Linked DNA regions of Homo sapiens. The protein of the gene in region 2 interacts with the protein of the main gene of each other region in a pairwise test. Each region holds a gene or a part of one and is shown on either strand. Other genes may lie near its edges. The genes, in order: CDCA7L and RRP7A.

What was found.
Region 1: the proteins of RRP7A (region 2) and CDCA7L interact in binary tests that used the Homo sapiens proteins (3 or more experiments, as listed by UniProt).

What each region holds. Positions count from the first base shown.
Region 1 is NC_000007.14:21,900,900-21,916,299, reverse strand, and holds part of CDCA7L (cell division cycle-associated 7-like protein), read left to right. Parts: intron 1-4,545; coding exon 4,546-4,683; intron 4,684-7,792; coding exon 7,793-8,170; intron 8,171-9,660; coding exon 9,661-9,732; intron 9,733-9,843; coding exon 9,844-10,011; intron 10,012-10,668; coding exon 10,669-10,794; intron 10,795-12,040; coding exon 12,041-12,190; intron 12,191-13,185; coding exon 13,186-13,322; intron 13,323-13,947; coding exon 13,948-13,978; 3' UTR 13,979-15,045; coding exon of another isoform or gene 15,046-15,293; 3' UTR 15,294-15,400. Other genes in the region: DNAH11 (dynein axonemal heavy chain 11), read right to left, coding at 15,046-15,293. UniProt on the Homo sapiens protein: Plays a role in transcriptional regulation as a repressor that inhibits monoamine oxidase A (MAOA) activity and gene expression by binding to the promoter.
Region 2 is NC_000022.11:42,516,179-42,532,019, reverse strand, and holds the start of RRP7A (ribosomal RNA-processing protein 7 homolog A), read left to right. Parts: upstream 1-12,223; 5' UTR 12,224-12,233; coding exon 12,234-12,306; intron 12,307-12,666; exon of another isoform or gene 12,667-13,604; intron 13,605-13,872; coding exon 13,873-14,015; intron 14,016-15,841. UniProt on the Homo sapiens protein: Nucleolar protein that is involved in ribosomal RNA (rRNA) processing. Also plays a role in primary cilia resorption, and cell cycle progression in neurogenesis and neocortex development.

The DNA.
Region 1 (15,400 bases), on a different chromosome or scaffold from region 2:
GCGTTAATTACTTTGATCTCTAGCACTCACAAGTTAGAGTTCTCTGACAGGTAGATTCCTGGAGGTTCACATTGTGTCCTAGTAGTAGAATGGCCAAAATCTCTACCCTTCAGTGGCATTTTCTTCTGAGTTAATTGTGGCACTCAAAATTCCTCATTCTGCCTTGACCATGGCCTCTCCAAAAAGGCAGCAAATTAAACCCACTTTGCTTCCACTGGGCAAGTCCAGGAAGGGAAGCAGTTAATTATATGTAAGTGAAGTGCCTGCTTAATTACGTGGGCCACTGTAAGTTCTGGCCTGGTGGGAGCTGTGCTTTCTGAGATCTCTGGAGGCTCCCTGGTCTCTGTCGTCCTCATCTCATTTGGCATCTCCACAGCAGTTGACCCCACCAGTAGACCTCCTTCTAACCACCTGGGTTTCTTCCTCTCTGTTACACCTTTTGCTCTTTGTTATTATTATTTTCTTTCTTTCCAAGATGGAGTATCATTGTGTCACCCAGGCTGGAGTGCAGTGGCATGATCTTGGCTCACTGCAACTTCTGCCTCCCGGGTTCAAGCAATTTTCCCAGCCTCAGCCTCCCGAGTAGCTGGGATTACAGGCTCCCACCACCACGCCTGGCTAATTTGTGTGTGTGTGTGTGTTTTTTTTTTTTTTTTTTTTTTTTAGTAGTGATGGGGTTTTGCCATATTGGCCAGGCTGGTCTCAAACTCCCGACCTCAGGTGATCTGCCCGCCTTGGCCTCCGAAAGTGCTGGAATTAGAGGCGTGAGCCACTGTACCTGGCCTGCTTTTTGTTACTGTCACTTGTTTTCCCTGTTCGTGTCCCTAAATGCAGATGTTCTCTAAGGGTTTGTCTTCAGTCTTCTCACTTAGTGAATCTTGTCTGTTGTCCTGCTTTGAGCTGTTACTGTATTCTTTTGTGGAGCTTGTCTTCTCTCTCCAGCCCCAGGTGGTTTCTGACTACCAGTTGGACTGGTCCTGGTTGCTAAGGGAGATCTGAAACTCACTTCTCCTTCCCTTGGTTGTCTTTCTGGCTTCCCCCTTTCCCCATCTTGATTTCCATCTTTTGTTCTTGGCCTTCCCTCCCCTCTTCCATCTCCTTGACTCCCGTCCAGGAGTTGATGAAACTTCTGCTGTGTTCCTGGTGTCCATCCTTCCCTTCCCTCTGCAGCTGCCGTAGCCCTCGTAGCTCTTACCCGAATGCTCATCCCTTCCTACTAGGATCTGTTATAGGATTGACCTCCGGTCAGCTCCTCCCTTAGCCCTCCATCTGAGCACAGTCAGGCGGTGGGGAGAGCAGAGCCTGTTGGATCCACCTTGAGGAGCATTTGAGCAAGGCAGAACATGTCTAAAGGGCCGAGCACAGAGCCTGGCAGGCACCGGGCATTAAGAAACAGAACAGCTGCTTCTGCTGCTATGATGACTCCTTTTGTAGTCAGGTGTGTTCTCCCCAGGGAGGACAGTGTGCCAACTGCTTTTCATACAGATACTGCATTTAATCCACAGACCTCCCTGGGAAGCTGCAGTTTTGCAAGTGATGAAACTGACGTTCAGGAAGGTGTAATGACTTGCCCAAGGCCCCACATCTGGGAAGTACCAAGCTGGGATGTTCCAAATCCAGGGCCACCACTTCTCAGCCTCTTACCCCGCCGGGTCTCTTTCCTACCTGCTATGCTGCAGGGCACAGGAACTGAACTGACACTCTCATTATCCACTGTTCTGCCCTTTCTGCCCACTGGTCCATGCTGTTCCTGCCTATCTGTGCTCTCACCATTTTTCTAGCCTCTACCGTGGCTCACATCCAGTTATGCTACTTCTTCCATGAAGTCTTACTGGATTTTCTTTCCCTCCGTGTGCCATATTGCTTTGTATCCCTTAGAGCACTGACCCTCACCAGGGTTATTCGTGGACCTGTCTGCCTCCCTGTTAGATTATAAACTCCTTAAGAAGGGGAGACCTCATACTTGAATGGTGCTTTCTAGCTTCCCTGGCTCTGACTTTTCGTCCTCATGTATTGTTCCTTTCCTCTGATTTCAAGCATCCAACACCCCACCTGACTGTATACAGTGAGCACGGGGGGTGTTGTTTGCTGGGTGCAGTTGAAATGGGGTGCTTGTCTGGCTGTCTGGTTCAACAGGCCATTGCTCTCTGGTCTGTTTCTTCCATGTCACATGGACTTCAAAATAAGTTTATCCACCTATGTTAGCTTCTCCTCTGATGTGTTATTTGCTTATGGTCCTGATCATGGTAGATGACCAAGGCCTATAGCATAGCACCCAGTATTGATTTTGAAGATGAATGAACCAGTGCCAGAGAGCAATCAGCAGTGCCAGGGTTTCTAACTCAGAATGCAGTGGAGCAGTGTGGAGTGGAGATTGGCATCATACAGACCCACATGGAAAACAGTACTTACACACTTTGGAGTAAGGAAACTAAAGCACAGGCCTCAGTTCAGGACAATGGTAAGTTGTTTTTCTCTATCAGGACTGACCATCAAAGATGGTAATCTCTCCCAAGATGCCCATTGCCCTGGGAGGCCAGCACACAGGATCAAAATAGCCAGAAAAACTGGAAGATGGGAACTCATAGCTTCAAGGCTTGCCCTGTTCCCTTCAGGCCCTAGGCAGGGGCTTTAGGTAGTTGATGAAATTTGCACACAGAAATACCACTCTAAATTAGCCTGCAGGGGCTGGCCCAAGGCTCTGTGAGCCAGATGTTTCTTGCACTGAGAGGCCTCAGGTGCATGGTGGGTTTCCTTAGCAGCAGCTGTGTACCATTCTTCCTTAATAATCAAGCCCTGGCTGCTTCTCTACCCCGACCCCACAGGCTCATGATCCATTTTAACCAATAGAGAGAAGCTGCATGAACTTGCACACAGTATGTGTATGCTAACTCTGGTCTCCCTTAAACACGATTTGAATTTCACTTTAAAGAAACTTCCCTTTTGTGTGTGCAATTTTTTTTCTCAAGCAGCTGCACTACAGCTATCAACAAAGGAACAAAGTAATTCAGCTCTGAGCAAACTCACTCCAATTACCCATAATAATTCATAGGAGACATTTTTAAGCTTACAGAATGCTAGATGTAGGCATTTCTTTCTGTGTGCCCCTGTAAGTTTTTCCACTTGTCTATTATATCTATCTTTCCCCAGAGATATATGAGCTCAAAGAAGTATATAATTAAAGGCGGGGAAACGCAGTGGGGTAGATACAGATTCCCCGCCAAGTGTGGTGTTACAAGGGGTCATTGCTATATCAGAGATGGGGGGAAGAGACGTCAGAGGAAACTGGGGACAGACTCTAGTCTTGATGAGGTGTGGCGGGCTTGCAGGGGGCTGGTCTCGTGGGTCTCCCTTTGGCCTGCAGTTTGTTATTTCCTCTTTCTTTCAAGTATACTATTAAGAGAGTTGGGTTTCCATCTTTGCACTATTTCAAAAGAAAAAGTATTAGAAAATGCCTTTTCTTAAAGAGTCACATTGCATCTTTCCTTCTGCTCACTTGCCACCTAGCCATGGTTGTTCACCTCTCACCTCCTGCACGAGAGAAATTCCTGGGGGTGACCTTGAATGAGCTTTCCATCAGGCCCCCATGGTGTCTGCTCATGGAGCAAGTCTAGGCTCTCTGGTGGTGGGCGGTGGGGGCTGAGAGAGGCCCCAGCCTTTTCCTACAGAGAAGCTCGCTGTTGGTGAATGGGAGGCATGCTCACCCACTTGGAGGAGACTCCGGCTTTGAAAGGCTGTTGGAAAGGGAAGCCAACACGTGGGAGGGAGCCAGGTTTTCTCCTCATATCTTCTTTCCATGTGTTTTGGTTCTATGTGAAAGCAGACGTGTCTGGTTGCCAGCTTTGGCAGGAGAAGCTGAATTCCATGAGCACTTACCAGTCACATTAGAAGCTGATTGAGACTACACCCAATTTTTAAAAATTGTCTGTCTTGTAGGTCTGAATTTTGTAAGCTTTAGAAAATGTGTATATATGTAATATATACGTGTACGTATGCGGGTTTTTTTGAGAGAGGGTCTCACTCTGTCACCCGGCTGGAGTGCAATGGTGTGATCTTGGCTGCAACGCAGGCTGGAGTGCATTGGTGTGCAGCTCACTGCAGCCTCGACCTCCCAGGGTTGGGTAATCCTCCCACCTTAGCCTCCCAAGTAGCTGGGACTACAGGTACATGCCACCAGACCCAGCTAATTTTTGTATTTTTTGCAGAGATGAGGTCTCACTATGTTGCTCAGGCTGGTCTTGAACTCCTGAGTTCAAGTGATCTGCCTGCCTCGGTCTCCCAAAGTGCTGGGATTACAGGGTGAGCCACTGTACCCGGCCAGTGTTTTTTTTTTTTTGTGGTAAAATACACATAACATGAAGTATATCATTTCAGCTGTTTTTGATGTGTACAGTTCAGTGCATTAAGTACATTCACATTGTTGTCCATCCATTTTCGTCATCTCCATCAGAAGCTCTGTACCCGTTCAGTAGCTCCTCATTCTACCCTTCCCTGGTAACCTCTATTCTACTTTCCGTCTCTGATGTATGTGTGTCTTTAATTTAGCAGGATGTGCGCTTTCATTCCAAATACTTCACAGAAGAGCTAAGAAGAATTTTTATAGAGGACACTGACTCAGAGACTGAGGATTTTGCAGGATTTACGCAGAGTGATCTGAATGGAAAGACTAACCCAGAAGTAATGGTAATAATTACAACAGGAAGGGATGTGGGTGGTAACGTTTTTAATCCTGTTTCTGAAAGAGTTTTACTTGTAAGCAGTCACTTCACAAGTGAAAAGATTTTTCTTACATATTTATCTTACAAGCAATTAACATAACCTAAAAAAATTGCTCCTGGAAGGCTAATCCCTGGTCCACCAGTCCATTATTCTCTTAGAGAAAATCCATTCATCTTCTCCTCGTGCCTTAGGGGGTTTTTGGGGATGTGTCCCAGGCGTCCTTTATTGTCCTTCTCAAAGAATTTATCTCTCTTGGCCAGGCACGGTGGCTCATACCTGTAATCCCAGCACTTTGGGAGGCCGAGGCGGGTGGACCTGAGGTCAGGAGTTCAAGACCAGCCTCACCGATATGGTGAAACCCCATCTCTCCTCAAAATACAAAAATTAGCCGGGCGTGGTGGCGGGCACCTGTAATCCAAGCTACTCGGGAGGCGGAGGCAGGAGGATTTCTTGAAGCCGGGAGGCAGAGGTTGCAGTGAGCTGAGATTGAGCCACTGCACTCCAGCCTGGGTGACAGAGCGAGACTCCATCTCAAAAAAAAAAAAAAAAAAAAAAAAAAAAAAAAAAAAAAAAATTATCTCAAGAGTTCCTTAAACCTCTTTTATCTAAAAGTTTATCTTAGATGACAACTTTCTTGAGATACTTTCTTACTGTGTGTGAAGTGACAGTTTTTGGTTTGAAGTTAATTTGGCAAAAATTTGGCTGTGGTACAAACTTGGTGTTCCCCATGCATTGTGGATTTGGATTTGTCATGCTTTTTAGTGTTAAAGATGACCCAGGCCTGCCTGGATTCTGGAGGGAAGTCTACTCTCAGCACTTCCTATGAACAGACTTGTTAGTTATTTGTTTGTTTTATCCTGCACAGTTAGGCTAGTTTACTGCCCACTCGTGTTTGAACCTGAAGGTAACTTTAAGGCACAGCCTTCGGATTTAAGTGCAGAAATGTTTTCTGCTAAAAATAGCATACATTTATGCAAAAAATAAACATGCTACTATCTTCTTCAGTATGAAGATGGAACGTAGAGTTTACGCCTCTTCACAGCCAGAAGCTGCTAAAGACTAACTTTTGGCAGAGACTGTGTAGAGGTATAAATAAGCCGTGACTCCTAGCCTGCCATGTCCCTCACTTGTCCTAGGAGAGAATGTAGAGCATAAAAGCCCGCATGGTAGGCTGCTTCGTTTGATAGTGATTTTTTGCTATGAGTAGCAACATAGAGCTGTGCCAGCCTGGAGGCCCCAGGTCTCCTTTGGCTTTCTTTGCAGAAGCTGTTTGTGTGGCAGTTCCATCAGTTCTGGCCAGCAAGTCCCTAGCTTCTTGCCAGCACGATATTAAGATGCTTCTAAAACCCTAATGGGCATCATCAGTTAGCAATGTACTTATTTTCTGTTCTTTAGTGAAGTGATGTCTGGTTATTCGAAGCATTTGCATTTCTAGTGAGAGAAAGTGAATTACCCCAGAAGTCTTCCCTCCCACCTGCCCCCAAGTCTATGGACTGTGTGATGTAGTTACATAGATCATGATATAGCTTACAGTTCAGCACAGGCCCTTGCAAATTTTATTTTAGAATCCAGTGAGAAGAAAAGCATTGTTGCCTCCCAGCCCACCCTCCTGCCCACCCCTGTGGGAACTGGCGAACCTATCTTTCTTGATAATGGGACATTGCTGTAACTTGGTTTCCAGGGGTCTGCTGGCCGGATGCGAAATAACCACATCCATGTACTACACTTGTGCTCTTCTCTTGGGTCTGATTCTGGGCTGCTGTGTACCATTTGTTCTTTCCTTCCTTCAGGCCTCTGTAGTGAGCTGTTCCACATCTGGTAAAGAGAGGCCTGTCGATGATGAGGATGGTAGATAAATGGATCAAAACTGAAGTTCTTCCCTGACAGTGTCCCCTGAAATTGGGTTCCTTTGCAGTACACCATTTTGAATTCTGAAGCTATTAATATGGGAAGTTCAGGGTATTAAAAAATAGATAAATCAGTGCCATATAGTCTTACTCCTCACTTGGCTTGGTGTGGATATACCAGGGTTGGCAGTTATCTGCGTTTTTTTTCTCCCTGTGTCTTATTTCTAACTTTAGTCCAACGAGAGTTTGGGGTTGATGGTCGTCACCGGGGAGGAAGCAGAGTCCCTGAACTGATCCTGGGTCCGTATCGGTGCCATTCCGTGTTCTTGGTAGATTTTCAGAATTCCCAGATAATGGTTCCCAAAGTTTTCTAGCTTCTGGTCATGGAAGGATGCCCAGAAGACGTCCTAGATCTTACATACTTAAACCTGTCTCTGTACCACTGCTAAGAGTCCCGTCACATCCAAGCTGTCACCTAGGTGATGTATCCCTGTTACTGCCTTCCATATTTACTGTGTTCTCACTTGTAAAACAGAGCAATGTTTGAATGCTGGAGACCTCTGCCATGTGGAATTTGAAAATGTCGGGTGAGGATTTCTTGAGTTGACTGAGTGGTGTTTTGCTACAACCTGTAGAGCTTTGTGACCTGGTTTCACCTCATGGCTCTGAGGGTTCCAGAGAAGGGAAAGGTGCCCCTTGACTGAGGACGCAGTGGCAGGTCATCTGCCTGTCCTGGGTCACTGCCCTGAGGTGCAGTCAGCTCTCCCGCCCTGTTATTCAGGAGTCTGGTTCCTGCTATTTAGAGGAGACCAGTCAGCATTTTTCCCCCGTTGCGTCCTTTCCTGTCTGAAGATCACATCTGTCATGCTGCTGTCTCTCCTTTTCTGTGACTGTCTCTCCTCTTGCTGGTGCTCCCTGGTTGTCCCACGGTGGAGGAACCCACCCTGTCAGTGTTTTGCTTACAGCCCTCATGCTCTGAATGGAACCCATTTCTGTCGCGGGTATGATGGTGCACAGTTCAGTAGTAGGTTGCCTGCTCTCTGATTTTATTCATCAACCAATTTCTTGCACATTTAAAGGAAATTCAGAGGGAACTCATAATATGAAGGGGAAGCTTTTCATTTTTCATGTTTTTTCTCATAATGCTGTCAGTTGTTTTAAATGCATGTCTTTTTTGTGGGTCTGTAACAGTGTCTTTGTGCTTTTTCTTGCTCTTATTTTATTAGGTCGTGGAGTCAGATTTGAGTGATGATGGCAAAGCATCTTTGGTGAGCGAGGAAGAGGAAGATGAAGAAGAAGATAAGGCTACCCCTAGAAGAAGCAGGTCTAGAAGAAGTAGTATTGGTCTTCGAGTAGCCTTTCAGTTCCCCACCAAGAAGCTGGCCAACAAACCAGATAAAAACAGTTCTTCCGAGCAGTTGTTTTCTAGCGCACGCTTACAGAATGAGAAAAAAACAATTCTTGAAAGAAAGAAAGACTGTAGACAGGTGATACAAAGGGAAGATTCTACCTCTGAGTCTGAGGATGACTCTCGGGATGAGAGCCAGGAGAGTTCAGATGCTTTGCTGAAAAGGACCATGAACATCAAGGAGAACAAAGCCATGGTGAGGCTTCACGGAGGGCGTCCTGGGAGTTGGCACCAGGCTCTGGCAGCAGTTGCTGGGCTCCCAGAACCACTTTGCTCCTACAGCTGCTGCTGTTGCTTTGGCTTCTGTCAAGAAAATATACTCTGGGTATTGTGTATCCTTTTACTTTTCCAGAACCCAGAGCAACTATTACATGATCAGCTCTGGTTTGGGAACAGAAAGAGATTCCCCAGCACCATTTTTAGCCCCTACATGGTGCCATAATGCTGCTTACTGTTGACCAAGCTAAGTTCTAAGTATATAGTTGTGTTGGGGATGAGAGGGGCTGAACAACTAGCCCGTTCCCAGCAGAGTAAAGCAGGGGAAGTGGGATGTCACCAAGTCCACTGAGAAGTTGCAAGGAGCAGGTTGGGCAGGTAGCTTTTCACCACAGAACCACTCTTCTATGGTGACCAGCACTGGTTCTGAGACTTCTGAAGGAATGGAAGAGGTCTAGGAATTAAAACAACCTCAACAGTGTTAATTCACTCTACATTGTCTTCATTAGAACAATGAATGGAACCAGGTGAAATCTTTGTTACATATATTTGGTTTTTCTGTATATAATCAATTACTGTTAATCTGATCATTGTAGAGAATCATTGTTTGCTTCATAATTGTTTATCTACAGTTTTTTTTTAAATAGTTCTACCACTTATCCCTTTTAGCATTTTGGTAATTTTTTAATCTTTTCCTTTTAAAAAAAGAATGATGCAGTGATACTGTATATGCAAGCTTATATGTCTAATATAAATTACTTACAAAAATGGAATGCCTACTTTCGGATTATTTTTATCCTAAGAAACATTTTTACTTAGCTAAGGGAAATTTTCAGCACTGTATCCATCTGCATCTTTAAAATAAGCTATTTTCTTTATGATTTTTTTGGTGGCACTCATATAATTGTATAAACTAAAACGAATCCTAATTAAATTCTCTGGCATATTAATGCCTATTATTTGGTATTATTAGTTCACGTAGGAATATCTTCATAGATTACTTTGATTGATGAGAAATTAATCTATTTAAAGAATCAGACTTTTGGAGTTCTAAATAACCATCGAAATAATCTAGTTGAGCTTTTTCTTTTTTGAACATCCTGAAACTTGAGACTCACGTGTGCAAAATGAATTGTCCCAGGGTCACACCGCCTTGGATTAGCCTCCGAGTCGGGATCGGAACCTCATGCTCCAGGTCTTGATCATTCCAGGACTGTTTTCATAGTGTTGTGTTGTCCTTATATATAAGGAATAGGCTAGTGTTCATTCATATGAATGATGACATCAGCATCTCAGGTCTGGAGGTACAATCTTTACATGTGAGGTTAAAAGTATAACTGTTGTGGGTTATATAAACTATTCAAGTTAGGTTTCTTATGGTGGCAAAATGGAAGACTTGAGATAGGTGTTGGATGACCTAAACCTGGAGCCCTATTTTTGTAAGATTCTTTCTTTTGTTCTGAACTTCAGCTTGCCCAGTTATTGGCGGAATTGAACTCGATGCCAGATTTCTTCCCAGTACGAACCCCAACCTCAGCTTCTGTAAGTAGAACTCCTTATAATTATACCAATACTGATATATGGTGATCAGCCACCAGACGGCTTTTATTCGAGAGAGTCCCCAGTTGTCTCTGTCTGTGCTCTTGATTTCAGAGGAAGAAGACAGTGAGGCGGGCCTTCTCGGAGGGACAGATCACGCGGCGTATGAACCCAACCCGGAGTGCGCGGCCTCCTGAGAAGTTTGCTCTAGAGAACTTCACTGTCTCAGCCGCTAAATTTGCGGAAGAGTTTTACAGCTTCCGAAGAAGGAAGACAATTGGGGTATTTTCTGACTAATACATGAATTAGTTTTTGTCTGAGCTACCATCCCTCCAAACGTGAACGCACGTCACTGTCACCCCAGGGCTGGTTCTGACCCCGTGGGTCTGCGGCAGCTGAGAACTTGCATTTCTCTCTGCTTCCCAGGTGATGCCATTGCTCCTGAGATCACACTTTGAGAAGCAGCCCTGGTCTAAGCTGGAGGTCACAGAGAGAGTCTTTTATCCAAGCCGAGCTGAGAAGCAGCTCATTTGTTAGGACCCTGCTTTAATCTCTGCTGCAGGCAATAAAGAAAAGTGCAGTGATTCCTCCTTGCCTTTCTGTTTTAGGCATGAGGCGTTTCAAGCGCTTTCAGTTTGGAGGGAGCAACTGTGGACCCATTTGTGGGTTTGGCTGTTCAGTGTGGTTCACCTCTCCACAGAGTTTACAGCAAAGAACCAAAAACCTTGAGTTCCTCCTTTATGATTGTATCGCCTTGCTGAGAAGGAAGCTTGGCAGGTGGCAGGAGCTCAGTAAATAACTAAATGAAATGGCTGCAGGGAAATAGAAGAGGGACGGGGTTAACATTAATGGTGCTAGATCTTTGAGAGTTTAAAATATTTATAATTTTTTTATAACTGCTCAACACATCTCCATGTTCTGCTTGTGTTCATTGTGCAGGGGAAATGCCGGGAGTACAGACGACGTCACCGTATATCTTCTTTTCGGCCAGTGGAGGATATCACCGAAGAGGACTTAGAAAATGTTGCCATAACTGTTCGAGATAAAATCTATGATAAAGTTCTGGTAAAGTATACATTAATTGTCATTCTTATTGGGAGTCGAAGGCATTGGTATTGAAATCTCACTTGTTTTTAAACTCTATCAGGGCTTATGCCATCTCACCAAGGGCTCAGAGCCAGGCTCTGAATTGGAGGGTCAAAAGTCAGCTGTACCTGGGAAAGGGGAGGCAGCCTAGTGCAGTAATTCCCATCTGGACGGCGGTCTCTCTTAGGGATGCGTAGAATCTGGGGGAAGGGAACGGTATAGTTTAAAAGGGATTTTTATATGTAACTGTTAATGGTTTAAGCATATAGTTTTATGTTCTAAATATTGAAAAAAGTATATTTGGGGGGTAATATAACCATAGAAATTAAAGTTTGGCAGAATATCTTTGGTAGGAAATGGGTTAAATTTCTTCTAAATGGTGATTTAGAGGGAGGCTTTGCGTTCTGCATTTTTTTTGTGTTTTTCTGGATATGTAACGGGACACTGTCAAGTTTTAAATTTAGTTGCCAATATTTAAAAAAAAATAGATCTCACATTGAAGGTATCCAGGTCTGCAGAGCTAGGCTGGGGCCGAGGTGATGCCACCCAAGGCTCATTGCCCCTCAGTCACCTGTCACCTTTCAGGGGCTCTGCCACCCCTGCCTCAAGCTTTTCTCTGGTCTCTCTTCCTGACAGCCTGATCATTTCATTCCTTCTGGGTCTCTGCTCAGCCTCATCTGACCTAATATGTTTCTCTGGCCACAGACCTGTGATGGTTACATTCTAGAGCAGTGGTCCCCAACCTTTTTGGCACCAGGGACTGGTTTTGTGAAAGACAGTTTTTCCATGGATTTGGGGGGCAGGAAGGGGATGGTTTCAGGATGAAACTGTTCCACCTCAGATCATCGGGCATTAGATTCTTATAAAGGGTGCACAACCTAGATCCCTCACATGTGCAATTCACAATAGAGGGTTTGTGCTCCTATGAGAATCTAATGCTGCTGCTGATCTGACAGGAGGCAGAGCTCAGGCGGTAATGCTCGCCCGTCCGCTGCTCACTTCCTGCTGTGCAGCCCGGTTCCAAACAGGCCACAGACTGGTTCTAGCCTGGGGGCTGGGGACCCCGGTCTAGAGACAATGCTGTGGTTCTTAGGAAAACAGTCCTGCTTGATTCGAGGAGACGGGGGTATTTCTTCATATACTTGGAAATGCACATGGTGGCATCTGGCCTCATTGGGCATCAGCATATCCCTGTGTTCACCTGCTCACTGCCTTCCCCCTGTAGGGTAACACGTGCCATCAGTGTCGACAAAAGACCATCGACACCAAGACAGTGTGTCGGAACCAGGGTTGCTGTGGTGTGCGAGGACAGTTCTGTGGACCATGCCTGCGGAACCGCTATGGGGAGGATGTCAGATCGGCATTGCTGGACCCGGTAGGAACAGTGTTTGCATTTGTTGTAAATTGTATTGGTGAAGGAAGCAAGCTATAAAGATGGGCCTCCTGGGTTCTCACTGGGAACTAGGGAGCTCCAGAACTCTGGTTTTTCCCTTCCATTTGTATCTTAAGGCTCCAGGGAAAATGAAAAATAGGGATTCCTTCTGGAAGGAGAGCAAGCTGACCAGTGAATAGAAGAATTAATGTTGTTAGATTTTCCATTGTCAGAGCAAAACTTGCTTACAGTCCTCTAGTTTTATGCAAGTAATCCCTGTACCTGTCCTTCAGCAAAGTGATTTCCCTCTGATTTGTTTTGTTTTTCCTGGGCCAGGCTGAGAGGGAGGTGGAGATTGCAGTATAGAGTGCTCTCTGTGTGCCTGGCACTGTGCAAGCTGTCGCTCACTCTGTTACCATAAATTTGTTTAATCCCATGAAATAGGTGTATAACCTCTCTCAGCTCCCTCGGTAAAATGAGACATAGTATCATGGTGAGTAGGCACGACCTTGAGCCTGGGGCAGTCCTGCTCCCGAGTGTGACCTCTTAGGCAGCAGTCATGGGGTAAATATATGGTCCTCAACTGACAGACAAACAAACTGCTGCTCAGGTTAGTCATTCAACAATAAGCACACATTGAAAGGGCTGAAATTCATACCTTGATATTTTGGAAACCTTGTGCTCCTAAACCAGGGCTGACATCCTGGGCCTGTGACCTGCATGCTCGCACAGGGCCCTGTGCTTGGCCAAATGCTTGTGAAAATCTCCATAATTTTTAAGCAAGGAGCCCTAAAAGGTGTCATTTTTCAGTGTTTGCATGTGACGTGGGGTGATTCAGCCTTCCTGCCTTGTGAGGAGCCCCCTGGGACGTAGACTGAAAGATGCCATGTGATTAAAGGTTGGAGGAGAGGCCAGCTGAGCCATTCTGGATCCGAATCCCAGTTCTTGCCAGACCCTGTAGATAATGAGCGAAGTGTCTGCTGTCATCTCTCTGTTAGGATTGGGTGTGTCCCCCCTGTCGTGGGATCTGCAATTGCAGCTACTGTCGGAAGCGTGACGGCCGCTGTGCCACAGGAATCCTCATTCATCTGGCCAAGTTTTATGGTTATGACAATGTTAAGGAATATCTGGAGAGGTAAGTAAGTCTCTAGCAGCTTACAAAACAGCTTGAAATCTTGAGGCTGAGCACAGGAGACCCTCTGGGCAAGTAGTTGTTGCCTTCCCGTGTGACTTACTTACTTATATAAACCACGAGTACCATCCATTCTGTATCTGTTTGCATTGGAAAAGCTCAGGCCTGATATTTTCCCTATTAGGGAATCTTCTCCTTTGCTAGATTTTTCAACTCAACTCCACGTTGCCTTTAACCAAAATTTCTCCTTGAGGTGTATGACAGAAATGGAAGGAACAAACAAACAAGGCAGGCTGAGGGGAAAGACACAGATTATGAAGAGGCAGCCATAATCCTAGTGCAGAGAGAGAGTTCAGGGCAAGAGGACAGAATGTGAGTTACAAGTTTCATTTATGTAATTAATAAACTCTGAATCGTGGTTCTGGAATGCGGGAGTGAGGCAAGTCATGCTTGGGGCGTACTACACCAGAGGGTATACGGATATTGATGCATAAATTGTCAGGATTTCGAGTGTCAGGAGATCTGGGTTCTGGCTTTGTACTCTTAGATGATTGTGGAATCTCTCAAGCCTAGAATGCCATTTGTGTATTTGTACTACTTTACCAAATACTTCTCATCTTTTTCCCAGCTTACAAAAGGAGCTGGTAGAAGACAATTAAGAGGAAAACAAACAGAACCAGCCACCTCACCATAGAGTACTCCAACAAGACATGCATACCATTGGTGCCTAAGAAAGATTTTTTTACAGTTGTGTTTTTATACAGAAATTCTTTGTAGAAATTACTATTTTTTGTTAAAGATTGTTTATATGCTTACAAAGATTTCTCAGGAAGACAGCAGAGCAGAGGAATCTATATAGATGTATGCACAGACCTGTCTGTATGCTGAACTTTGTTAAAAATATCTGCCAGTTATTAAAAAGCACAGTTTAAATGGGGTGGGGTTAAAGTTCAGGTAAGTAAGTTAGAGAGAAAACATTGTATGATCAGCTCCTGCACTTGATCTATCTATCTTTGGCTTCCCAAACAGTAACTCACTCCAGGCCAAGTGTGCCTTAGCACGAGTGACCACAGTTTAATAGACCACACACATCGTTTAACCTGCTCTTGGTCATTGGAAATTTACACTGAACAAAGTGCAATTAACTGTAGAACAGTTTTATTTTTATTAAAACTTGACTGAACAAAAGGGGACCATCAACATTGTAGACACTGGACACTGGAGGCCTTACAGAGTGCTAGCCTCTTCCTTCAGGACTCACCTGGGGCCTGCTGCTTTTATATTTTGAAAGAGTTTAAGGGCTAATAATTTAATTTGTTGTTTGTTAAAAATTAAAATCTCCGTTCTTTCCGGCTGCATTGCTTTTGCATGTTCACATATGATGTACTTTTATGATGTACTTTTTTTTTTTTGAGATGGAGTCTTGTTCTGTTGCCCAGGAGGGAGTGCAGTGGTGCAACCTCGGCTCACTGCAACCTTTGCCTCCTAGGTTCAAGTGATTCTCCTACCTCCTGAGTAACTGGGATTACAGTCGTGTGCCACCACGCTCAGCCCTGAGTTAGTTTCTAGTATTTTTTTCTGACTTTCACTCTAAGGATAGCGTTGAAAAAAGAATGCACGTGTGAGTTACTAAAAAGTTAGAATAATGTGCATGGGAACAGTGCAGCAACATGCTAGAAAATCCTCACTGCACTCCAGCAGAGGCTAGAGGAATGCCAGTGTTACCTTACGCTTCTAGAAGCAGAGCCACTCCAGCCAGAACCCATTTTGCAGTCTTCTCTTCGCTCTTCAGCCTGAAGGTCCAGATGTAGCTGGGGCCTCTCAGTTTGGTTCTATACACAGGGCACTCGTAGGTCTGTTTGGTTTCTTGTCTGTCCACGGGGGTGGCTTTTGCAAAGATGACCGGCATAGGGCATGCCAGCTCCTTGAGACGGGCTTCAACAATGGTTCCTGCTTGGGTGTCCCAGCGGGCGCCTATGGCAAAAACACAGCGGTTGCAATTGTGTGGCAGCTTGCTACTAATGATAATGATCAAGTAAGTTGTTTGATGCAATAAACATTCAACATTCTGGTTTTGTCAT
Region 2 (15,841 bases):
AGAAAACAGCTGGGCCCGGGGGGACCACTACCACCAAGACACGGAGACCGGTAGTGACCCCAAATGGCTGGGCGCACTGTTATTTATTGCATACAAGACAAGGGGAGCAGGGTAAGGAGGGTGAGTCGTCCAAGTGATTGATAAGGTCGAGCAAGTCACGTGATCATAGGACAGTGAGCCTTTCCCTTATAGGTAGCTGAAGCAGAGAGGGAAGGCAGCATACGTCGGCGTTTTCTTCTATGCACTTATCAAAAAGATCAAAGACTTTAAGACTTTCACTATTTCTTCTACCGCTATCTTCTAAGAACTTCCAAGAGGAACCAGGAGTACGGGAGGAGCATGCAAGTGGACAAGGAGCGTGAGCATTGAAGGACAGCACCACAGGGAGGGGTTTAGGCCTCCGGATGACTGCGGGCAGGCCTGGACGATATCCAACCTCCCACAAGAAGGTGGTGGAGCAGAGTGTTCCCTGACTCCTCCAAGGAAAGGGAGACTCCCTTTCACGGTCTGCTGAGGAACGAGTGCCTTCCCAGGCACTGGTGTTACCGCTTGACCAAGGAGCCCTCAAGCGGCCCTTATGCGGGCGTGACAGAGGGCTCACCTCTTGCCTTCTTGGTCACTTCTCACAATGTCCCTTCAGCACCTGACCCTATATCCGCCAGTTATTCCTTGGTTATATTAGTAATACTACAAAGAGTAACATTAAAAGCTAATGATTAATAATGTTTATACTGATGATTGATAACGTCCATGATCATCTCTGTATCTAATTTGTATCATAATTATTCTTATTCTGTTTTTTTTTTATCATACTGAAACAGTTTGTGCTTTCAGTCTCTTGCCTCAGCACCTGGACAGTCCTCCACTCACACCTCAGCCTCTCAAAGTGCTGGGATTACAGACATGAGCCACCGCACCTGGCGTCCCCCATCTCTTCTTATAAGGGCACTCATCCCATCATGGCATCAGGGGGCCCTATCCCCATGACCTCATCTAACCCTAGTTACCTCCCAAAGATCTCACCTCCTAATACCATACCTAACTGGGGGTTAGGGTTTCAACAGATGAATTTTGGGGGGACACATATACTCGATTCATAACAGCCAAGAACCACCAGAAGCTAGAAGAGGTGAGGAAGGATCCCTTTCTTGATGTGACACCTTCATTTTAGACTTCTGGCCTCTGGAACTGTGAGAGAATAAAGTCTGTTGTTTTAAGCCACCCAGTTCATGGTCATTTTACTTTAGCTGTGGTAGAAAGCCCAGGAAAAAGTCTCCAGAGTGAGCTGGGGGACACACCTGCCCCTCACACCCTTGGCCATGGTCACCCAAGGGTCTCCTTTCCTCCTCATTCCTCCTCCTTCTTCCACCAGGGGCACGGGCACCATCCAAGTGCAGTCTCTGCAGGCGGGGGAGACTCCTGCACGGACTTCCTGCAGAGTCAATTCTGTAGTAGACACCAGTCGGGTGTCCTCTGCTTCCACTCAGTCCCAACACTGTCTACCTGGAGATGTCCTCAGGTCCCGCAGGTTGAGGACTTCGTCCCACAAGACCTGAGCCACACTCCCAAAACTGATCCCAAGCCCAGGTTATTTTGAGTCTCTCCTTCTCCTTCTTCTCCTTCTCCTCCTTCTCCTTCTCCTTCTCCTCCTCCTCCTCCTCCTCCTCCTTCCTCTTCTTCTTCTTCTTTCTTCTTCCAGGGTCTCACTGTGTTGCCCAGGCTGGAGTGCAATGGTGTGATCTTGGCTCACTGCAGCCTCCACCTCCCAGGTTCAAGCGAATCTTCTGCCTCAGCCTCTCCAGTAGCTGGGACTACAGACATGCACCACCATGCCCCACCAATTTTTGTATTTTTAGTAGAGATGGTGTTTCACCATGTTGGCCAGGCTGGTCTTGAACTCCTGACCTCAAGGGATCCATCCACCTCAGCCTCCCAAAGTGCTGGGATTACAGGAGTGAGCCACCGTGCCTAGCCTATTTTGTGTTTGCTTCTGACCAACCAGCCGTAAATTGGGGTTCCCACAGCCCTCTCTTTGGGTTCAATTCACTTGCTAGAGAGGCTCAGAACTCAGGGGAACACTTACTCAGGTTTACCATGTAGGGGTGAAGGGAAAACTTCCCCTTCGCCCTCTGAAGGTTCACGGAAAATCAACTCTCAAAAGGCAGATGAATAGGAGAAAGGGATGCGCATTTATTTGATTATAGTTTTACCTGTCACAGGAGACTTCGGAATGAAGACCCAAAGATACAGGGGAAATTGTCCATTTTCATGCTGAGGTTCAACACAGTATGGGCAGCTGTGGAGACATAGGATTGGACAAAAATGATCTGATCTAATGCTAGCAGATGGAGTGGGGAACCCAGCAGGGCCTGTCTGGCTAGATTCCTCCTGGCCTCTCTGAGCTGAGTTCCTTCCTTCTGAGTGTGGGGAGGACAGTCTCTGGAATGCGGGTCTTATTATTTTTTGAGACAGTCTTGCTCTGTGGCCCAGACTGGAGTGCAGTGGCGTGATCTCGGCTCATTGCAACCTCCGCCTCCCGGGTTCAAGCGATTCTCCTGCCTCAGCCTCCTGAGTAGCTGGGATTACAGGTGCATGCCACCACGCCTGGCTAATTTTTGTGGTTTTAGTAGAGATGGGGTTTCATCATGTTGGCCTGGCTGGTCTTGAACTCCTGACCTCAGGTCTACCCACCTAAGCCTCCCAAAGTGTTGGGATTACAGGCGTGAGCCACGGCGCCTGGCCTGGAATGGGGGTCTTATGGTCTACAGTCAAACAAAGTAGGCCAGAGAATTTCTTTATGGCCAGTTTTTGCACAGATAGGGCAGAGGGGAAGTTAGAGTCATATTTTAGGTTGTATGGCTGGTTTGGGGGAAAGGGGTTCTGGTTTCTATGACTCACCCTGAGGAAGAGAGATTCTAGTTTCTATGGCCAGCCTCAGGGCAGAATGAGGGGCCACAGACAGGAGGGCAAGAGAAGGTCAGAGAAACTCCTTCGCATGGATGACACAGACCCCCATCTCCAGGCCTGAAAGCACCAGGACTAGGAGGAAAAGCAGCCCCCACTCAAGAAGGTGGCAGCGGGGCACAGATGAGAACAATGCTGCAAAATTTGTGTCTACCCTTGGAGCAGACCAGACCAGATACAGAGTTTCAGCTGACGGGAGCCGGTCCCTGGCTGGTGCTACCCTCCTCCCCACCCTGGCCTGGAGTCCTGCAGCATGCCCCAGAAACAGTGCCAGCAGCCAGGCCGGAGGAAGTGGTGCCCAGCCGTGCAGACACGGCTGGCTGGAGGGAGCCCTGGACATTATGACTGTCATGGGGCCTTCGTCCACTAAAAAAAAAAAAAAAAAAAAGTAAAAATTGTATATTATGCCTGCATGGCTAAAAAGATGAAAATAACCAGGCTGGGCTGCTTATAAATCAGTTACATGTTTTTTTCTGGTTTTAATAGAAATTAAGACGTTTTTGTGGGCCCACAGTGCCCCTCAGGCACAGTGCCTGCTGAGCCGAATGTGGATGTGGGCTCTGCCTCTGGGGTTAGTGTCAGGAAACTCCTGCTTCTTCCCTTGCAGGATCAGCAAGGGGTCACTCTGGCTTTCCTCATGGCAAAGAAACTTCCCATGGGCACCTGCACACACCCCAGGCCTCCTCCCTGCCAAGGCAGGGATTCCTGTGCCACCTGCTGGGGAGGGCAGCCCAGCAAATGAGCCAGCTGCATGGGTGGGAGTTGGTGACTGTTCTTCGTTTTCTGCAATGGTTCATTTTTTGTGTCAACCTGTTGGAGCCATGAGGTGCCCAGTATTTGGTTCAACATGATTCTGGGTCTGTCTGTGAAGGTGTTTCCAGAAGAGATAAGCATTTGCATCAGTAGACTGAGTAAAACAGATGGCCCTCCCCAGTGTGGATGCGCCTTGTCCAATCCATTGAAAGCCTGATGGGAACAAAAGACAGAGTGTGGTGACGCATGCCAGTAGTCCCGACCACGCAGGAGGCTGAGGCAGGAGGATCGCTTGAACCCAGGAGTTGCAGACCAGCCTGGGCAACGTGGCGAGACCTCATCTCTACAAAAACATAAAAAAAAAAAAAATTGAGACGTGGCACACTTGTAGTCCCAGCTACTCAGGAGGCTGAGGCAAGAGGATCATTTGAGCCTGGGATATCGAGGCTACAGTGAGCCACGTTCACACCACTGCACTCTAGCCTGGACTACAGGGCAAAAGTCTGTCTCTTAAAAAAAAAAAAAAAAGGCCCGGTGTGGTGGCTCACTCCTGTAATCCCAGCACTTTGGGAGGCCAAGGCGGGTGGATCACCTGAGGTCAGGAGTTCAAGACCAGCCTGGCCAACATGGTGAAACCACGTCTCTACTAAAAATACAAAAATTAGCCGGGCATGGTGGCAGGCATCTGTAATTCCAGCTACTCAGGAGGCTGAGGCAGGGAGAATTGCTTGAACCCGGGAGGCGGAGGTTGCAGTGAGCCCATATTGCACCACTGCACTCCAGCGGTATACTCTGGGTGCCATCACTTAGCTCCTCGGACCTCCTCAGTATCCTAATCACCCTCAGCAGATGGCCTGGAGATTGGCTTCTTAGTTTTAAATTCTAGGACCATCTACAAGCTTGCTTTTGGTAAGTCACTACAGACAAATACCAGTTAAAGCACTCAGGAAGATTCAAGCTCCAGTGAAATACTATGCATTGCCTAAAGCATATTCCTGGGTGAAAGAGCAAGACTCCTTCTCAAAAAAAAAGAAAAGAAAAGAAAAAGAAAAAGTAAGATAGAATTCACTCCATCTGCCTGACTGTGAGCTGAGCTGGGATACTGGTCTTCTCCTGCCTTTGAACTTGGACTTGGACTGCAATGACACTGTCGGCTCTCCTGGTTTTCTTTTGCTTGCTGACTGTAGATCCTGGGACTTCTCAGCCTGAGCTCAGCCAGGGCTGCATTTAGGCAGAAGTAGGGCTCAGGGTAATTAGATGGGGCAGATGGGGCTCCTCATCTATTTTGGGGCAAGTCAAGCTAAGACACCTCCTTGAGAATGGCTCTGCAGAGAACTGCCTGACCCCAGGCAGTAAGAGGTGAAGCTGCCACGCCTTCTCCTAATTCAGGAGCAGAGTCTTTGCCTTTAGAAATTCCCTCTGCTGGGCCGGGCGCGGTGGCTCACGCCTGTAATCCCAGCACTTTGGGAGGCTGAGGCGGGTGGATCACGAGGTCAGGAGATCGAGACCATCTTGGCTAACATGGTGAAAACCCGTCGCTACTAAAAATACAAAAATAAATTAGCCGGGGGTGATGGTGGGGGCCTGTAGTCCCAGCTACTCAGGAGGCTGAGGCAGGAGAATGGCATGAACCTGGGAGGCGGATCTTGCAGTGAGCCAAGATCGCACCACTGCACCCCAGCCTGGCTGACAGAACAAAATCTTGTCTCAAAAAAAAAAAAAAGAAATTCCCTCTGCAGTTATGTTAAGGGTGGGATGGAAGTAAGTATAAACTTCCATGCAAAGCAAACAAATAGGATATAATAAGGATTTGGGGCTGGGCTGAGTGGCTCAAACCTGTAATATTAGCACTTTAGGAAGCCAAGGTAGGAGGATTGGTTGAGCCTGGAAGTTTGAGACTAGCCTGGGCAACACAGTGAGACCCCATCTCTTAAAAAAAGAAAGAAGACTTTTTAAAAGTGTTACTAGGCCATTACTGTTGATTCCCCATTATTCGGGATTCGATCATCCAGTCTGAGGATCACTGAAGCCTTTTCTAGGCTGTTTTGATTCATCTTTTGTGTGTGTGTGTGTGTGTGTGTGTGTGTCTGTGTGAGACAGAGTCTCGCTCTGTTGCCCAGGCTGGAGTATGGTGGCGTGATCTCAGGCCACTGTAACCTCCGCCTCCTGAGTTCAAGAGATTCTCCTGCCCCAGACTCTTGAGTAGCTAGGATTATAGGTGCGCGCCACCACGCCTAGCTACTTTTTATATTTTTAGTAGAGACAGGGTTTCACCATGTTGGCCAGGATGGTCTCGATCTCTCGACCTCGTGATCTGCCCGCCTCGGCCTCCCAAAATGCTGGGATTACGGGTGTGAGCCACCATGCCTGGCCTTGACTCATCTTTTCATTCTTTCACTAATCTTGGCATTTCCTAATATTAATGAAAATAAAAGGAAATGAGAGTGAAACAACAGGTTTACTTTCCTCTATTAGCTTCTGAGGGAAAAGGAACGGACAAGAGCAGGTTGGGCGACCAGCTGGCATTTGCCCCTCTGTCAGGTGACCTCGACATCCCCGCATTGCAGAAAGGACCCTGAGAGCTGACCTTACCTGTGTGCGTCTCCCCAACGAAAACTCTTAGCAAGTCTGACTTACAGACCACTAGAAACCCGATCGGGACCCAGAAACCCCACTCCCAGGTATTCACCCAAGAGAAGTGAAAACTTCCATTCATACAAACACCTGTGCGTGAATGTTACAGCAGCTTATTCATAATCGTCGAAACCTGGAAATCGCCCACATCCTTTACTTGGTGAATAGATAAATAGACCACACTCCATCCAGACAGTGGAACATTTCTCAGCAATGAAAAGGAACCATACAACAATGTGGGTGAACCTCAAATCACGATGCTCAGTGAAAGAACCTGGACTCGCACGATTCCACTTTCAGGACTCGCTGGAAAAGCAACGGGAGAACAGAGCAGTGGTTGCCAGCGGCAGCACGGGAGTTCTGGGAGTGACGGGATGTTCCCTATCTTGACTGTGGTCATGGTGATAGGACTCTATGCATTTGAACTATATACCAAAAGAAGTGAATTTTACTGTGTGGACATTTGAAAGTATTTTTTAACCATTAAAAAAGAAAAATTGAGGCTGGGCACAGTGGCTTATGCCTGTAATACCAGCACTTTGGGAGGCCGAGGCGGGCGGATCACAAGGTCAAGAGATCGAGACCATCATGGCCAACATGGTGAAACCCTGTCTCTACTAAAAATACAAAAAGTAGCCGGGCGTGGTGGCGGGTGCCTGTAGTCCCAGCTACTCAGGAGGCTGAGGCAGGAGAATGGTGTGAACCCGGGAGGCGGAGCTTGCAGTGAGCCGAGATCACACCATTGCACTCCAGCCTGGGTGACAGAGTGAGACTCCATCTCAAAAAAAAAAAAAAGTGACTTCAATTTTTCCTTCTCCTCCTCTTGGCTTGTAAAAGGGTTACCCCTGCGTGGCTTCAGAGTGTTTAAAATCGCTTACCTCCTCTTGAGGAGGTTTAACATTCTTTCCTTTTTTGAGACAGAGTCTTGTTCTGTCACCCAGGCTGGAGTGCAATGGCTTAATCTCGGCCCACTGCCACCTCCACCTCCCGGGTTCAAGGGATTCTCTTGCCTCAGCCTCCCAAGTAGCTGGGATTACAGGTGTGCATCACCACACTCAGCCAATTTTTGTATTTTTGGTAGAGACGGGGTTTCATCATGTTGCCCAGTCTGGTCTCAAACTCCTGGACTGAAACGATCCACCCACCTCAGCCTCCCAAAGTGCTGAGATTACAAGTGTGAGCCACTGCGCCAGGCCTCAATATTCTTTCTAATAAGCTCACTTGGGTTCTTATTCAGTGTATTCCTTTTCCCAGGCTGCTGTAACAAAATAATATAAACTGGGTGGCTTAAGACAACAGAAATTGATTTCTGGAGGTGAGAAGTCCAACACCAAGGTGTCGGCAGGGCTGTGCTCCCTCTGAAGGTTCTAGGGAAGAATCCTCCCTCACTTCCTCCGGCGTCCAGTGGCCACAGGCATCCCTTGGCTTATAGCCTCACCACTGCCATCTCTGCCTCCATCTTCCTATGGCCCTCTTTCCTGTGTGTGTCTCCTAGGCATCTTATAAGGACACCAGCCATTGGACAAAGAGCCCACCCTAAATCCAAGATGATTTTATCTTGAGTTGAAAGGACCTGATTACATTTGCAAAGACCCTGTTTCCATATTCAGGTCACATTCACAGGAATGGAAGAGTGGTGGGGGAAGGGAGAGGTTAATACTTGAACATGGCTGGGCGCGGTGGCTCACGCCTGTAATCCTAGCACTTTGGGAGGCTGAGGCGGGCAGATCACGAGGTCAGGAGATCGAGACCATCCTGGCTAACACGTGAAACCCCCGTCTCTACTAAAAATACAAAAATTAGGCCGGGCGCGGTGGCTCACGCCTGTAATTCCAGCACTTTGGGAGGCCAAGGCAGGTGGATCACGAGGTCAGGAGATCGAGATCATCCTGGCTAACATGGTGAAACCCCGTCTCTACTAAAAATACAAAAAATTAGCCAGGCGTGGTGGTGGGCGCCTGTAGTCCCAGCTACTCAGGAGGCTGAGGCAGGAGAATTGCGTGAACCCGGGAGGCGGAGCTCTCAGTGAGCCGAGATCGCGCCACTGCACTTCAGCCTGGGCAACAGAGCAAGACTCCATCTCAAAAAAAAAAAAAAAAATACAAAAATTAGCCAGGCGTGGTGGCGCACGCCTGTAGTCCCAGCTACTCGGGAGGCTGAGGCAGGAGAATCACTTGAACCCGGGAGGTGGAGGCTGCAGCAAGCCAAGATCGCCCACTGCACACCAGCCCGGGAGACAGTGTGAGACTTCATCTCAAAAAAAACATACTTCAACATGTCTCTTGGGGAGCACAATTCAACCTCTATATTCGGTAAGACTCTCTTAGACAGGGCAGGGCAACCTGGCCCTGCACTCCTTGGCCATCCTCTGCTGTCACCCCCAGACCTCAGGCACGGCGGCCCCTCGCTCTCCCCCGTCTTTTCTCTCCGGGCCTCTGAAGTCACCAGTTCTCCATGCCCAGCCGTGGCCTGTGGGAGGGAGCTGGGGGGGTGAGCTGGAGCTGCCACTTAGCGGCAGAGTCGCAAACTCACCGTTCCTAATGAAGCCCGTCGCTTCTCCCTCCTCCTCCTCCCAGCAAGCAGGAAAAAAAAAAAAAGTTGACTACTGAGACCACATGCTAGGAAATCCATGGGTGGGTGCTCTAGTTGACAAGTCCCACTTGAGCCCAGCCATATTCGGCCATTCTTGCACTGCTATGAAGAAATACCTGAGACTGGGGAATTTATAAAGCCAAGACGTTGAATTGGTTCTGCAGGCTGTACGGGAAGCATGGCTGCATCTGCTTCTGGGGAGGCCTCAGGGAGCTTTGACTCATGGTGGAAGGCGAAGTGTGAGGGGTCACTTCACATGGTGAAAGCCTGACCAACAAAGTGGGGGGTGAAGCAGCCACCCATTTTTAAACAAACAGATCTCGCGAGAACTCGCGATCGCAAAGACGCAAAGACGGCGCCAAGCCATGAGGCCCCCATGATCCAAACACTTCCCACCAGGCCCCACCTCTAGCACTGGGGATTACAATTTAACATGCGATTTGGGCGGAGACAAATACTCAAACTCTATCACCAGCCATCCCTGCTGAGATGCCGGACTCATCTGCTGAGATGCTGCGATGTGAGTGAAGTGACTTGGAACCTTTAGTGCAGCCCATATGCCAGCTGAATACCATCAAATGCCCTCAGTCAGTGCCACAGGGAGAAACAAAATCTCCTAGCAGAGCATTGCCCAAATTCCTGACCCATGAAATACATGGGCAGTGGTAATTATAAAGAAAGTGGAGTTAATTGATCGAGTGGCATCAGTGGGCTGAAGGAAGAAAACAACAGGCCTCAGGACAGCCATTTATCAACTTATAGCCCAAGGTGAAAATCAGGAGGGGCTTCCAGAGACGTGTTTAAAGACAGGTCACATTGTGCTGATAAAGGCCTAGAACCTGATGAGAACTGTGGAGTTTGAATCAGGGCAGATGAACGGCTGTGCTAAGTGCTGTGCTCCAGTCAAGGAGCACAGAAGTGAAGGAGCGGACACTGTCACCTAGGGCAGGGAACGTCTGGATAGATGGGCTCAAGAGTCTTGAATTCTAGGCTGGGTGCAGTGGCTCACACCTGTAATCTCAGCACTTTGGGAGGCCGAGGTGGGCAGATCATCTGAGGTCAGGAGATCAAGACCAGCCTGGCCAACATGGTAAACCCTGTCTCTACTAAAAATACAAAAAAGTAGCTGGGTGTGGTGGCACATGCCTGTAATCCCAGCTACTTGGGAGGCTGAGGCAGGAGAATTGCTTGAACCCGGGAGGTGGAGGTTGCAGTAAGCTGAGATGGCAGCACTGCACTCCAGCCTGGGTGTCAGCAGAGTGAGACTCCGTCTCAAAAAAAAAAAAAAAAAAAAAAAAAAAAGGCTTATGCCTGTAATCCCAGCACTTTGGGAAGCCGAGGTGGGCGGATCACAAGGCCAAGAGATCGAGACTATCCTGGCCAATATGGCGAAGCTCTGTGTCTATCAAAAATAAGAAATTTAGCTGGTCATGGTGGTGCACACCTGTAATCCCAGCTACTCAGGAGGCTGATGCAGGAGAATTGCTTGAACCCAGGAGGCGGAGGTTGCAGTGAGCGGAGATCGCGCCACTGCACTCCAGCCTGGCGACACAGCGAGACTCCATCTCAAAAAAAAAAAAAAAAAAGTGATGTTGTGTGGCCAGTCCTGATATCCATCGAGATGGCTCCTTGAAGCGTGGAAGCAATACATGAGAGGGAGATAACAGAACGATGGTGGCAGGGCACTGAGAAGGAGCCAAAGGCCTCGGGGAGGGGGATGTGCAGGCACAGATTTATTATGCAACATCTGAGAAGCCAGATGACCGTATTTCTGGAGGGTTCACCAGAGACTGCTTTGACTAGTGGGGGGTCTAGGCATCAATGGGCAATCGGCATGGCCGTCCTCTGAGGCCAGGGTAGAAGAGGGCAAATAGGACTGGAGCCGGGCTCGGAAAGGTCAGCAGGAGATAGGATTCCAGAGAGCAGAGGTTCGGTTGATGTGACTGTCAGAACAGGAGCAAGGCCAGAGTGGCTGCCAGGGATCCTGGGCGCACAGGAGTCTCTGGTGAATGCTAGTAGACCACGGTATTCCCAGGGGCCACGGAAGCCCCAACACTGCTTGACTGCGCTAAGCAAAGAAAGATCAAAAACAAAAAACGAGCGAACAGGACAGTAATGGCAGCTGCTGATGGAAAATCCCAACCCCTCATCCAGTTTCCAGGCCTAAGCTAGGCCTCAGAACCAGAGGTCACTGACTGAAAGGGAGGCTGGGTCCCCTCCAGACCACAAATATTTGCAGTAGTAGGCTCCTAATCTTTCCCCAAAGGGGCCGACAGCATTTCCAAGAAGCAACTGTACACTGGGAAAAGAGAAATAGTAGATACATCAAGGGCTGGCGGGTACACAGTCTGAGAGGCCCTTTGGAGTCCAGAAAAGTGGAGTCCTTGGACTTCATTTCTCCCCTATCTACACTTGCTCCCTTGGCGATCACACCCTCTCATAACTTTCTTTTTTTTTCTCTTTCTTTTTTTTTTGAGACAGAGTCTCGCTCTGTTGCCCAGGCTGGATTGCAGTGGGGCGATCTTGGCTAACTGCAATCTCCGCCTCCTGGGTTCAAGCGATTCTCCTGCCTCAGCCTCCCGAGTAGCTGGAATTACAGGCATGCACTACCACGCCCGGCTACTTTTTGTACCTAGTAGACACGGGGTTTCACCATGTTGGCCAGGCTGGTCTGGAACTCCTGACCTCAAGTGATCCGCCCCCCTCGGCCTCCCAAATTGCTGGGATTACAGGCATGAATCACCGCACCCGGCTCCTCTCGTAACTGTCAATAACCTATCCATGGCCAGTCCCGTGTGTATTGCTCCAGGCCTGACATCTCTGATGTTCAGTCTGTTCAGTCTCATATCTAAGTGCCCACCTGACATGTCCCCTGAGTGGCCTAATGGGCATCTCACCACGGCTCACAGAGAACTGATCTACTCCATTTTCACCCCCAAGCAGGCCCCTCTCCTGCAGTCTTCCCATCTCAGTCAATGGCAACACCATCCTCTTAGTTGCTCAGACTGAAAACCTAGCAGCCATCCTGGATTTCTCTCACACTGCCTATTCAACGTGTGAATGCATGAGTGGAAAGCTGAGTTCGCACTCGTGACTGGCCGGGGTCAACTCTGACATTCGCTCCCACTTTCGCGCGCTGATTTATCTCTGAGCGGATGAAGGTTGGGCCATGGCGGGCGGGGCCGGGGAGGCGGGCTTGGAGTGAGGGGGCGGGGCAGGCGCCACGAAAACGCGCTCGCGCCGGCGCCGAACCGCAACTCCCGGCGGCCCCCGCGCTCCCGGGTGGCAAGATGGTGGCGCGCAGGAGGAAGTGCGCCGCGCGGGACCCGGAGGACCGTATCCCCAGCCCACTGGGCTACGCAGGTGAGGGGCTCCGGGACGCGAGACCGGGGGCGGTCAGGCATCGCCGGGAGGTGTTTGGGGGTTGGCGACGGCCGGGGGTCCCCAGGAGCGGCCGCACGGTTGGGTGTGAGCCCCGGTGGCCCGTGGCCCCAGGCTCCGCAGGTCTTGAGGCTCCGGGGTCCCGAGGACCCAGGCGGCGCCCTTCTGCCTGCTCACTCTCCCGGGGCGAGCCCAACTTGGTCCACGCTTCCCTTGGGTGAGCCCGCCTCTGTCCACACTCTCACCCAGGACAAACCCATTTCCGTCCACACCCGCTCGTCCAGGTGAGCCCATCCCCTTCTCATCGCCTCTGCTCCTAGTCCATCCCCCATCAGCTCTTACCTGGGCTGTTATAGGCCCTCCTACTCGGTTGCCCTCCTTCTCCTCTTGCCCCTGCTTCTGTTCTCCACCCACGTGCCAGAATGTTCTTTTAAGGACATTTAGATTCGATCATGTCTGCCGCGCCCACGATAGGCGCCACACCTACTGCATTCCCTCCAGTGGCTTTATCAGGTAGCTTCTAAAACAAAAACCAGACTTCTTAACCTGTGTGGGCCACGTGGTCTGGCTGGTGCCGACCTAAAGCTCTTTCTGTTCCTCTGAGGGAACATGCTTTTTCCCCCCTCTGGGTTTTTGCACGTGCTGTGCCGGTTTGTTGCACAGTGGCGTTCTGGCCTGAGCTTTAATGTTGCTTCCTCAAAGAGGCCATCCGTGATGGCCTATGGAAAGAAGACCTCTGCCACCCCATCACCCTGTAATGTTTCTTTCACAATTGATACAAGTTTGCTGTATGCTTGTTAATTGTCTTCTCCGTTATTGCAACTGAGCTTCCTGAGTTCAGGGACCGCAGCTCTACGCCAACCGGTACTGTGACGGAGGTGTGAGAAAAATAGAAGCAGTTCCTAGCTTTATGAGGATTACAGTCATGGGTGTGCCAGCGATTAACCAAAGAATCTCATCAATATAGCCTCCAGACTGTTAAGAGAAGCTGTGAAGGCACAGGCAGTGGGATCTGAGCTGGCAGGAGGGGCGGAGGTGATGCTAAGGCTCTCCTGAGGAAGCGAGGTTTGAGCTAAACCTGAGGTGAGCGGGAGGGAAGAGGGTGACACGCCAGGTAGAGAGGCCAGCATGTGTGAGGCCCTGGTGTACCCGGGGGAACAGAGAATCCAAGGTGCTGGGGGAAGATGGTACGAGAAGAGGTCACAGTGACAGGCAGGGTCTCACGGGGCTTCCAGCCATGGTTAGGATTTTGGCGTTGACTCCAAGAGCCGCAGGGTTCGAGCTTCCCTCTCATTGCGCCCCCATCTGTAATCATTGCCCATTTATCTTCTCTCTCCCTGCACCGCCTTGGGAGGCCCTCCTGGGCAGACTCTTAGAGCCCGCACAGGCTTTGCCAAAGAGTAGGGTAAGGGGGGTTGGTGAAGGGATGGATGGATCGATGAACAGATAGGACTAGACAGGGATGTGGAGAAAGGAAGTTGTGTGAGTGTCTCGCTGGCCTCAGCTCAGGGTAGCCTGGCCATCCCTCCCCTCCCATTTCCTTTCCAGCTATTCCAATCAAGTTCTCTGAAAAGCAACAGGCTTCTCACTACCTCTATGTGAGAGCACACGGCGTTCGACAAGGCACCAAGTCCACCTGGCCTCAGAAGAGGACTCTTTTTGTCCTCAATGTGCCCCCATACTGCACAGAGGTGAGCTAGTGTCTGTCTGGGAGGAGACCTGTGGGCTCAAGGTGGGGGCTCCCATGGCCTCCACCAAGTCCTTGGTGGTGAGACGGACACAGCTAATGGGAGCCCCAGAGGAGAGTGTCAGGAGGGCTACCGTGATCTCCAGTCAGGAAACTGGCTTTTTAAAGATGTCTTTAAAAGTATAATCCTGCCAGGCACGGTGGCTCATGCCTGTAATCCCAGCACTTTGGGAGGCTGAGGCGGGCGGATCACCTGAAGGGAGGAGTTCCAGACCAGCCTAGCCAACATGGTGAAATCCCGTCTCTACTAAAAAATAAAAAATGAGCCAGGCATGATGGCATGTGTGGGTAGTCCTGGCTACTAGGGAAGCTGAGGCATGAGAATCCCTTGAACCCGGGAGGTGTAGGTTGCAGTGAGCCAAGATCGCGCCACTGCACTCCAGCCTGGGCAACAGAGTGAGACTCTGACTCAAAAAAAAGAGAAAAAAGTACAATCCTAAGTAGCCCAAGGCATTTTTACATATTACCCAAAGTTGTCTGAATTACGTGTTTTCTTCCAGATTGTACATGTCCATAATTTAAAAGTAGGAAAGTATAAGAAAATAAAAAGTGCCTCTAATTCTATCCAAACACAACTGTTAATTTTTTTTTTTTTTTTTTTTTTTTACAAAAACTAAGCTAAGGGAATTGCTGGATTTATTTATTTATTTATTTATTTAATTTATTTATTTATTTTGAGACAGAGTCTCCCTCTGTTGCTCAGGCTGGAGCACAGCGTTCACAACTCACTGCAACCTCCGCTTCCCGGGTTCAAGTGATTCTCCTGCCGCAGCCTCCCAAGCAGCTGGAATTACAGGCGCCCACCACCATGCCCGGCTCATTTTTGTATTGTTAGTATAGACAAGGTTTCACCATGTTGGCCAGGCTGGTCTCGAACTGCTGACCTGAAGTAATCCGCCCCCTTCAGCCTCCCAACGTGCTGGGATTACATGCGTGAGCCACCGCCCCTGGCCAAGGGAATTGCTGGATTTGTTTTCAAAAAAGAAACCCTAATTTGTAAAAGATTCCTCTAAACTTAGAGAAAAAAAGAAGCATGTAGAAGAGGGGGTGTGAGTTCTGACCTTTTTTGAAGTGCAGCATGTGTGCCTGGAAGGGCCCCAGTGGCAAGTGTCCAGCTCGCTGCATCCCAGAGACAGAACATAGCTGTGTAGTCAGCGCCCAGGTGGAGACACAGCAGCACATCCCAGAACCCCCGCTGCCTCCACCACAGACAACCACCATCCCAACTGTCATAGCATAGGGTCACTACTGCTGATTCAGGTAGTAAAACTTGTCATAGGAAATCAGAATAACAGCAAGAATGTCCCCACCTGTCTCCAGTGAGAGAGCAGGAATATGCCGGGCACAGTGGCTCACGCCTGTAATCCCAGCATTTTGGGAGGCCGAGGCGGGCGGATCACCTGAGGTCAGGAGTTCAAGACCAGCCTGGCCAACGTGGCAGAACCCTGTCTCTTCTCAAAATACAAAAATTAGCCACGTGTGGTGGTGGTGGGCGCTTGTAATCCCAGCTGCTCGGGAGACTGAGGCATGAGAATCACTTGCAACCCGAAGGTGGAGGTTGCAGGACTCCAGCCTGGGCTACAGAGCAATACTCCAACTCAAAAAAAAAAAAGAGCAGGAATATCAACCTCCATATTGTCCCTGGGGAACAGGTCGGAGGCCATGGTGCCCACAGTCTCCCGGCTTGGGCAGATGTGGCTGTGGCTGAGTCCTTCAGCGGCGCTGGACCCCTGGCAGCGCCACCCATGGTGCAGGGAGGCTTTGGGATGG